Homo sapiens: one gene and its partners. The protein of the gene in region 1 interacts with the protein of each later gene in a pairwise test. Each region holds a gene or a part of one and is shown in the gene's direction. Other genes may lie near its edges.

What was found.
Region 2: the proteins of C12orf57 (region 1) and INSL3 interact in binary tests that used the Homo sapiens proteins (3 or more experiments, as listed by UniProt).
Region 3: the proteins of C12orf57 (region 1) and ANKK1 interact in binary tests that used the Homo sapiens proteins (3 or more experiments, as listed by UniProt).

Annotation. Positions count from the first base shown.
Region 1 is NC_000012.12:6,942,399-6,946,502, forward strand, and holds C12orf57 (protein C10), read left to right. Parts: upstream 1-1,623; 5' UTR 1,624-1,723; coding exon 1,724-1,775; intron 1,776-1,981; exon of another isoform or gene 1,982-2,077; coding exon 2,078-2,254; intron 2,255-3,372; coding exon 3,373-3,524; 3' UTR 3,525-3,604; downstream 3,605-4,104. UniProt on the Homo sapiens protein: In brain, may be required for corpus callosum development.
Region 2 is NC_000019.10:17,815,799-17,818,597, reverse strand, and holds the end of INSL3 (insulin-like 3 isoform 2 precursor), read left to right. Parts: intron 1-1,538; coding exon 1,539-1,744; 3' UTR 1,745-2,086; downstream 2,087-2,799. UniProt on the Homo sapiens protein: Seems to play a role in testicular function. May be a trophic hormone with a role in testicular descent in fetal life. Is a ligand for LGR8 receptor.
Region 3 is NC_000011.10:113,397,701-113,401,129, forward strand, and holds the end of ANKK1 (ankyrin repeat and protein kinase domain-containing protein 1), read left to right. Parts: intron 1-279; coding exon 280-316; intron 317-1,260; coding exon of another isoform or gene 1,261-1,263; coding exon 1,264-2,567; 3' UTR 2,568-2,716; downstream 2,717-3,429.

The DNA of each region.
Region 1 (4,104 bases):
CCAGGGCCTGGCAGGGAAGCGGGAAGAGACCAGACCTTCTTAAGGAACGGGGTGTGGGGGCTGGGAAGAATTGGAGAGGGGATCCCTGAAGAGCCCAGAGCCTTGACTCAGCTGGAGGCGGTACCATGGGTGCTGGTGCCCCCTCCTGCCCCAAGGCTGGGCAGGACCGCTGCGCGCCAGTGGAGGCCTCGGTCTGGGCTCTGTGGCTTATGCCTGTGAGACGCGGGTGGATTGCTTGAGCCCAGGAGTTGGAAACCAGCTTGGGCAACATAGAGAAACCCCATCTTAAGACAAAATCAGCTGGGGGTTGTGGTGCACTTGTGGTCCCAGCTACTCAGGAGGCTGAGGTGGGAGGATCACTTGGGGGTCGAGGCTACAGTGAGTCATGATCGCACCACTGCACTCTAGCCTGGGTGACAGAGCAAGGCCCTATCTCAAAACAAACAAACAAAAGACACCCCAACCAACCAAACACTAGAGGCCTGGGACAGGCCCACCTCTGACGTGGTCAGTTCTAGGAATCTATTCAGACGGGTCTCACTGCTAGGAGCCACCAGAGTCCTCCGGAACAAGGGCTTCAGAGTCCTGAAACCTTTCCGTGGAATACTTTAAGAAACGGTTATGAGGCCAGGCGCGACGGCTCACGCTGGTAATCCCAGGACTTTGGGAGGCCGAGGCGGGCGGATCACGAGGTCAGGAGTTCCAGACCAGCTTGGCCAACATGGCAAAACCCTGTCTCTACTAAAAACAAAACATTAGCTGGGCATGGTGGCGCGCGCCTGTCGTCCCAGCGACTTGGGAGGTTGAGGCAGGAGAATCGCTTGAACCCGGGAGGTGGAGGTTATGGTGAGCCAAGATCCCCCCCAGCTGCACTCCAGCTTGGCGACAGAGCAAGACTCCGTCTCAAAAACAAAAAACAAAGCCGGTTATGAAGCGGGGGTGGGGTGGGCTAGTTTTAATAGGTCCAGGCGATTAGTACCTGGCATCCTTAACCACCTACAGTTTGAGAAGGGAGTGGGTGATAAAAGCCTGGAAGGGAAGGGAAATCGGGCCGGGCATTAGGCTCCATCGCTCATCAATAGACAAGGCCTTTAGGAAACTGCGACAACGGCTTTTGCTCTGGGCCTTTACTGCCGAATCCAGGTCTCCGGGCTTAACAACAACGAAGGGGCTGTGACTGGCTGCTTTCTCAACCAATCAGCACCGAACTCATTTGCATGGGCTGAGAACAAATGTTCGCGAACTCTAGAAATGAATGACTTAAGTAAGTTCCTTAGAATATTATTTTTCCTACTGAAAGTTACCACATGCGTCGTTGTTTATACAGTAATAGGAACAAGAAAAAAGTCACCTAAGCTCACCCTCATCAATTGTGGAGTTCCTTTATATCCCATCTTCTCTCCAAACACATACGCAGCAGTGTTACAGCTCTTTTAGAATTTGTCTAGTAGGCTTTCTGGCTTTTTACCGGAAAGCCCCTCTTATGATGTTTGTTGCCAATGATAGATTGTTTTCACTGTGCAAAAATTATGGGTAGTTTTGGTGGTCTTGATGCAGTTGTAAGCTTGGGGTATGAAGGTTTGGGCCACGCCTGGGCGCTTCCGGCTGCGCCGGATGCTGTTTCCTTTCCGCTCCCAGGGGCGTTGGGAACGGTTGTAGGACGTGGCTCTTTATTCGTGAGTTTTCCATTTACCTCCGCTGAACCTAGAGCTTCAGACGCCCTATGGCGTCCGCCTCGACCCAACCGGCGGCCTTGAGCGCTGAGCAAGCAAAGGGTGAGAATCGTCCTAGTCAAGGCATAGGCTGCTGGCCTGGGGTAGTCAAGGCATGGGCTGCTGGTCTGGGGAGGATGCGGGCGGAGGATGTGGGGCGACAAACCTGGCTACGTCCGCCGGGAAAATGGGGTAGGGGACGCCGGGTACCGTCCTTCTAAGTGGGGCGCTTGCCCCCAAGACTTGGGATCTTATTGGGTTACCTACAGCCTCAATCCACTAATTCCTTGCGCTCTCCGCTGGGCCCGCTGTCTGTTCTCCGACGCCTACCCGGGACGCCTCCCTGGGATGCTTCTGGCGCGCAGTGGTCCTCGCGGAGGTGATCCAGGCGTTCTCCGCCCCGGAGAATGCAGTGCGCATGGACGAGGCTCGGGATAACGCCTGCAACGACATGGGTAAGATGCTGCAATTCGTGCTGCCCGTGGCCACGCAGATCCAGCAGGAGGTTATCAAAGCCTATGGCTTCAGCTGCGACGGGGAAGGTGGGTCAGACGCGGGAAGGCGGGTCAGACGCGGGAAGGCGGGAGTTGGGTCGGGAGAGGGCGCCGGATCTGTGGGCCCATGAGCGGTTGTCCCCTTTCTCGCCACACGGCGGCAGCCACAATCTGACTAACATTCTTGGCACTCAGAGCCCAGGGTCTACCCTGAGCTTGTGCGTCCGAGTTGCGTTTTGTACAGTAGAGGTTCTGTATCCCTTACCCGAAATGGTTGGGACCGGAAGTGTTTCGGGTTTTTTCAGATTTCGGAATATTTACATATACATGGATATCTTGGGGGATGGGACCTAAATCTGAACACGAAATTGTTTTGTTTCATATACACGCACCTTATGCACATAGCCTGAGGGTAATTTTATATAATAGTCTGAATAATTTTGTGCATGAGACAAAGTTTTGACTGCGTTTTGACTACAGTCTCCCCCACCCCCCACTATGAAGTCAGGTGTGGAATTTTCCATTTTCGGCCTCACACTGGCACTCATAATTTCAGATTTTGGATTTTCTAATTAAGGATGGTCAACCTGTACTGTTAATCACATTATTATTCCATTTTGTGATGAGGAAGCAAACTCTAATGGTGCAGACTCTCGAGTAGCAGAGCTGGACTTAAATGCTGTTGTGCCACCTTTTAGTGACATGTCTGCATGACAGCAGTGGCTGCAGTCTCTCCAGGGTGTTTCAGCTAATTTTTGTTTGGGGGGGGTTGGTGGTTAAATTTTTGGTGAGATCCTGGTGTTCCCCAAAGGTGTTGACTGATTCAGCTCTGCTGCCTCATAGCCTTCCTGAGTTCCAGCTACAGACCTGGGGTCTCGTGTTCATTCTTGGGGTTCCAGTGACTAAACTGCTAAAATGGTTCACCTGAGAGCAAGAAGCACACTGCCTTGGGACATTTTCATTCACTGCATCCCATCTAGTTGTGCCCAGTGTAGACCAAATGTCATCATCCAAACCACACGGGACAGAGGCCTGCATGCGTCCTGTTTGGCAAACAGCTGCCCAGCCAGTGGGGGAGCAGTTCATGCTTAGACTACCACCCCCTCCAGGTGTCTTAGGCACGCTGGTCCTTAGGAGAAGGGTTGACCTTCCACTCCCTCTTGCAGGTGTCCTTAAGTTTGCTCGCTTGGTCAAGTCCTACGAAGCCCAGGATCCTGAGATCGCCAGCCTGTCAGGCAAGCTGAAGGCGCTGTTTCTGCCGCCCATGACCCTGCCACCCCATGGGCCTGCTGCTGGTGGCAGCGTGGCCGCCTCCTGAGAGTTGGCCCTCCCTTGTGCCACTGCCAGGGGAGGAAAGGCCTTGATGTTCCAGACAATAATAAATGCGCCTGTGACTTAGCCTTGGTGTCAGTCTCTTGCGGACCTGACAACCCCCATCTCTCCTTCCCTGATTCCCTCTGCCTTTCCAGGCCCCATCCCCCTGAACAGCTCCTCCCTATGGTCCTGGCTGGGCCTAACCCTGCCCCAGGGCCTAACCCTACCTGAGGCTCCTCCCCTTCCCCCGGGGCAGGTTGAGAGGCTGGAGTGGGTCCCTCAGCGCCCTGGGTGGGTGGGCCTGCACAGGGGGTACCTCCTTCTCTGAGGAACTGGGCTGTTAGGGATTTTCCTTAGGCCCTTTGGTTTCCGCCTACGGAGAGGTTTCCCCCATTGGTTGCTCTTCCTCAGCCAGGGTTACTTCCTGGTCTGTTCCCCTACCCAATACCCCGCCGCTCTGTCAGCTTGAGCTCCAGGTGGAGCTCCAGGTGGCTCCTCCTCTCCCGGGGGAAGGCGGCCCTGGACCAGCAGGCGGGCCTGCTGTACTCCCGCTTTGGGGCTGCAGGGAAGCTGGCCGCTGTGGG
Region 2 (2,799 bases), on another chromosome or scaffold:
GTCACTCAGGCTGGAGTGCAGTGGCACGATCTCGGGTCACTGCAGCCTTGCCTTCCCAGGCTCAAGCGATCCTCCCACCTCAGCCTCCCAAGTAGCTGGGACTACAGGCATGCAGAATTATGCCCAGCTAATTTTTGTATTTTCTGCAGAGATGAGGTTTTGCTGTATTGCCAAGGCTGGTCATGAACTCCTGGGCTCAAGCAACGCACCCACCTAGGCTTCCCAAAATGCTGGGATGACAGGTGTGAGCCACGGTGCCTGGCCTCAAAAAAATATCCTGATGGCTTCGTGCCTCCCTGTCTGTACCCTAGTCCTGGCCCTGGTGCAGGGATATACGACAAGTTTGTGCAGATGTGTTAACACGTGTCCACATGTCTCTGTGTGCCACTCCACTTGCGGTGTTAGGGATCCAGGGGAGGTGGTCTGCAAGGGTGTGTCCTCGTAGGGGTGTGTGTGTGTCTGTGGGTCCACCACACATGCGTGGGTGACCAGGAAGTGGACCCACAGACACATGTACACCCCTGCATGTCTCTGTACCACGAGGAGTCTGTGGGTGGGTCTCTGACCTGCTCTGGGTGTCTCACGGACCCTTGGACCTGTTGGGGAAACTGACACCATCTGTAGCTCCAAGACCCCCGACACTCCCTGGGCAGGGCATGGGGCACTCAGGTGGCATATGGGGACCCACGCAGCTGGGGATGTGAGTGTGGACATGAGTTGAGTGGATGAGAGGATTAACCAGGTGCCTGGCGTACAGTAGGTGCTTAATAAGTGCTCGCTTTTTTTTTTTTTTTTTTTTTTTGAGATGGAGTTTCATTCTTGTCACCTAGGCTGGAGTGCAATGGCATGATCCCAGCTCCCTGCAACCTCCACCTCCTGGGTTCAAGTGATTCTCCCACCCCAGCCTCCCCAGTAGCTGGGATTACAGGCGTCCACCACCACGCCTGACTAATTTTTGTATTTTTTAGTAGAGACAGGTTTTTACCATGTTGGCCAGGCTGATCTCAAACTCCTGACCTCAAGTGATCCACCCACCTCGGCCTCCCAAAGTGCTGGGATTACAGGCGTGAGCCACTGAGCCGGGCCAGTGCTCACTTTTTTTTTTTTTTTTTTGAGACAGAGTCTCACTCTGTCACCCAGGCTGGAGTGCAGTGGCGTGATCTCGGCTCACTGCAAGCTCTGCCTCCTGGGTTCACGTCATTCTCCTGCCTCAGCCTCCTGAGTAGCTGGGACTACAGGCGCCCGCCACCACACCCGGCTAATTTTTTGGTTGTTTTTTTTTTTAGTAGAGAAGGGGTTTCACTGTGTTAGCCAGGATGGTCTCAAACTCCTGACCTCGTGATCCGCCCACCTCGGCCTCCCAAAGTGCTGGGATTACAGGTGTAAGCCACTGCACCCGGCCAGTGCTCACTTTTTATCTGCATGCATGAGTGTTTGGTGGGTTACTCAGTGGGATGTGTGTGGATTCGTGCACATGCAGCATGGGGTAGCATGTCCTCTGTCGTTTCCGTTCCAGCTGAGTTTCACTCTGTCCCCAGGTGAGTTGCTACAGTGGCTGGAGAGACGACATCTGCTCCATGGGCTGGTGGCCGACAGTAATCTCACGCTGGGACCTGGCCTGCAGCCCCTGCCCCAGACCTCTCACCATCACCGCCACCACCGTGCAGCTGCCACCAACCCTGCACGCTACTGCTGCCTCAGTGGCTGTACCCAACAAGACCTGCTGACCCTCTGTCCCTACTGATTCCTCCTTGGGTGCAGCCTCAGAGTGGCCTGAGGCCCAGAGGGTCTGGTCTGGTGAGCTCCTGAGGCCACACAGCACCATAAAGTCTCGCATCTACAGGCCTTTGATTACCTCCTGGGATGGGTGCTCACTATCTACCCCAGACCAATGCCACCTGCAGCCTGTGGAGTCAACTGCAGAATAAATCACACCCTAGCCCTGGCTTGGAGGATCCCCGCTTTCACAGATGCTGGACACTGACAGCCAAATGTCCTCACTCCAGGGGAGCCCCAGACGCTCCGCTCCCTGCATGTGTAACACCCCTTCTTGCTGTCTCTTAGTAAATAAACGACCCAAAGCAGCTTCCTGCATTTTCTCTAGAAAAAGGGACAAGCCTCAGTCAGTCCCTGTGTGGGCTTGTCCCCCAGCAGCCATGGACCCACCGGCACTTCCAGGAGCTTGATAACTAGAGAGGCATTGCAACGCAAAGTGGGGAAACTGAGGCCCAGGGAGAGGGCTGCTTGCCAAGGTCAGACAGGGAAGGGTAAGTGCAGGACTTGAACCGAGGTCTCTACCAAGGCCCATGGGAGTCCTTAGCATTGAGGACTTAGAATGGTAGACATTAGACACAAAACAAATGTCAGAAAATGATCATCACAAAACACATTAGTCTTTTTTTTTTTTTTTTTTTTTGAGGCAGGGTCTCACTCTGTCACCCAGGCTGGAGTGCAGTGGCACAATCATAGCTTACTGCAGCCTCCAACTCCTGGGCTGAAGTGATCCTCCCACTTCAGCCTCCTAAGTAGCTGGGATTACAGGCACCCGCCACCACACCCAGCTAATTTTTGCATTTTTAGTAGAGACGGGGTTTCACCATGTTGGCCAGGCTGGTCTTGAACTCCTGAACTCAGGTGATCCGCCCACCTCGGCCTCCCAAAGTGTTGAGATTACAGGCATGAGCCACGTGCCTGGCCCAGTCATCGGATTTAGGGTCCACCCTAATCCATGATAACCTCATGTCTGTCTATAAAGACCCTATTTCCAAATAAGCCCATATTCTGAGGTGAATTCTCAGA
Region 3 (3,429 bases), on another chromosome or scaffold:
GCTCCCCCAGCTGAACTCACAGATCCACCCTGAAGTTCACATGGCCCAAGGGGAAGGCAAGGCCCTGAGCTGCCTCTTTCTGGAGGGTTTCTCCAGCTCAGTGTTTTCCTCTAGACAGCTGGGGATAGTCATGGCAAAGGATAAAGGTTTCCCAGGATAGGGTGGGATGTGAGTCCTGACAGTGACCGGGAAGGTTGGAGAGAGGGAAGGAGGGGAGGAGGGCACAGGCTAGAACTGCGCCACTGATCTCCACCCTGCCTGCTGGTTATGCCTCCCCAGGTTAATGAGGACATCAGCCAGGAACTGATGGACAGTGGTGAGTCTGGGTGCCACGGGCGGGACCAGAGAACTCACAGCAGAGAAAATGGAGTCAAACCACACCCTTTCCCCATCCCCCTGGCCTCCCCCTCATCCCCAGGCCTATCACACATCCAGGGTTTAGGTGCCCTTTTCCAGCACCCAGCTGCATGTTCAGAAAGCACATGCCCTCAGGGAGCCTGGCTGCCTCCCTTTCAAGTCTGTGTCCTTGCAAGACGGAATTTTCCCTTTCCTGACCTGAAAGGTGGAGCATTGGTTCTCAAGGCTGGCTGCATGTTAGAATTGCTCGGGAAATTAAAAAAAAAAAAAAAAAAAAGCTTTGCCTTGGGCACACCCTAGACTAATTAAACCAGAATCTGTGAGGGTTAGGCCTGGGTAGTGATCATTTTTGTCATTTTAATTCTCATACTCCACTGGGTAGAGCAGAAGGATGTTGATCCTTAAGACCTCAGAGGGGAGTTTAGATCATAGAACTCCAACCACAAGTTTATTTCCAACTTAGAATTGCTTACTTTCCCTCAGGTCCTCCACTGAAAGTTTTTACCTATATAATTTGTCCTTCCAATGGTAGAATGAACTGATCATTGTTTGTCCCCTCTTCCATATCTGATCCAGATATGGAAGCTCAAAGAGGCAGTGAATTGGCTAAGGTCGGGGGATGCTGAGGAGTGAAATCAGGATTTGCACTCGGGCCTCCTGAGCCCACTGCTCTTTCTGCCTCACCTGTGAGGAAAGGACTGCAGGACTCAGCTCTCCAGGACGACCGAGCCTGAACTTGAATAGTAACATTTATGGCTGTGTAGAGAGCCATGCTTAGGAAAGGCATTGCCCTTACTGCTCTAGCCTCTGTTCCTGGATGGTACTTCCAGGAGGCAGGGGGATGGCCATGATGACCTCTGGACGGGTCACAGGTCTTTTTTTTCAACCCCATCTTTCTCCCAGCAGACTCAGGAAACTACCTGAAGCGGGCCCTTCAGCTCTCCGACCGTAAGAATTTGGTCCCGAGAGATGAGGAACTGTGTATCTATGAGAACAAGGTCACCCCCCTCCACTTCCTGGTGGCCCAGGGCAGTGTGGAGCAGGTGAGGTTGCTGCTGGCCCACGAGGTAGACGTGGACTGCCAGACGGCCTCTGGATACACGCCCCTCCTGATCGCCGCCCAGGACCAGCAACCCGACCTCTGTGCCCTGCTTTTGGCACATGGTGCTGATGCCAACCGAGTGGATGAGGATGGCTGGGCCCCACTGCACTTTGCAGCCCAGAATGGGGATGACGGCACTGCGCGCCTGCTCCTGGACCACGGGGCCTGTGTGGATGCCCAGGAACGTGAAGGGTGGACCCCTCTTCACCTGGCTGCACAGAATAACTTTGAGAATGTGGCACGGCTTCTGGTCTCCCGTCAGGCTGACCCCAACCTGCATGAGGCTGAGGGCAAGACCCCCCTCCATGTGGCCGCCTACTTTGGCCATGTTAGCCTGGTCAAGCTGCTGACCAGCCAGGGGGCTGAGTTGGATGCTCAGCAGAGAAACCTGAGAACACCACTGCACCTGGCAGTAGAGCGGGGCAAAGTGAGGGCCATCCAACACCTGCTGAAGAGTGGAGCGGTCCCTGATGCCCTTGACCAGAGCGGCTACGGCCCACTGCACACTGCAGCTGCCAGGGGCAAATACCTGATCTGCAAGATGCTGCTCAGGTACGGAGCCAGCCTTGAGCTGCCCACCCACCAGGGCTGGACACCCCTGCATCTAGCAGCCTACAAGGGCCACCTGGAGATCATCCATCTGCTGGCAGAGAGCCACGCAAACATGGGTGCTCTTGGAGCTGTGAACTGGACTCCCCTGCACCTAGCTGCACGCCACGGGGAGGAGGCGGTGGTGTCAGCACTGCTGCAGTGTGGGGCTGACCCCAATGCTGCAGAGCAGTCAGGCTGGACACCCCTCCACCTGGCGGTCCAGAGGAGCACCTTCCTGAGTGTCATCAACCTCCTAGAACATCACGCAAATGTCCACGCCCGCAACAAGGTGGGCTGGACACCCGCCCACCTGGCCGCCCTCAAGGGCAACACAGCCATCCTCAAAGTGCTGGTCGAGGCAGGCGCCCAGCTGGACGTCCAGGATGGAGTGAGCTGCACACCCCTGCAACTGGCCCTCCGCAGCCGAAAGCAGGGCATCATGTCCTTCCTAGAGGGCAAGGAGCCGTCAGTGGCCACTCTGGGTGGTTCTAAGCCAGGAGCCGAGATGGAAATTTAGACAACTTGGCCAGCCGTGGTGGCTCACGTCTGTAATCCCAGCACTTTGGGAGGCTGAGGCAGGCAGATCACCTGATATCAAGAGTTTGAGGCCAGCCTGGCCAACATGGCAAAACCCTGTCTCTGCTAAAAATACAAAATTTAGCTGGGTATGGTGGCACGTGCCTGTAATCCCAACTACCAGGGAGGCTGAGGCAGGAGAATTCCTTGAACCCAGGAGGCAGAGGTTGCAGTGAGCCGAGATCGCACCACTGCACTCCAGCCTGGGCAACAGAGCGAGACTCCATATAAAAAAGAAAGAAAGAAAGAAATTTAGACTACTTGGGGCCTCTCGCCTGGATGGAGTAGGAACTGGTGAAAGTGCAGCTGGGCTTCTGGCAGGGCATCTTCCCTGTCTGCAGTCTTCACCTGCCCCTTCCACCTTGAGAGGAGACAGGAACCTGGGTGATGGGGGCATGGGGAGAGGTATCACTGTGGCTGTAGCTGAGGAAGGGGCTCTGGCTTGGAGAGCTGCCTTCAACACATCCTCCAGTCACTTCCAACAGACCCCAGGCCTCCTCCTCCTCCTTTATGGGGATGCAAGCTCCCCAAATGAATACCCTCTCCAATCCAAGACACCTACCACCTTTTGCCACTCGCTTCTGAGTTCACAGGGGCCCTTGCATCCTAGCAGACCCCCTCTGGAGATGGAGGGAGGCACAGCGGTGAGGGAAGCAGGATCCTCCCATCTCACGTCTTGGGCTCTTGGCTCCTTACCTCAGGCTGGGGCGGGAGAGCCAGACACGTGTGCTTTGCTCAAGGGGCAGAAGCTAAAAGTTCAAAGGAGGTTTCTGCTCACTAAAGTCCCAGCCAGCCATCTGTTG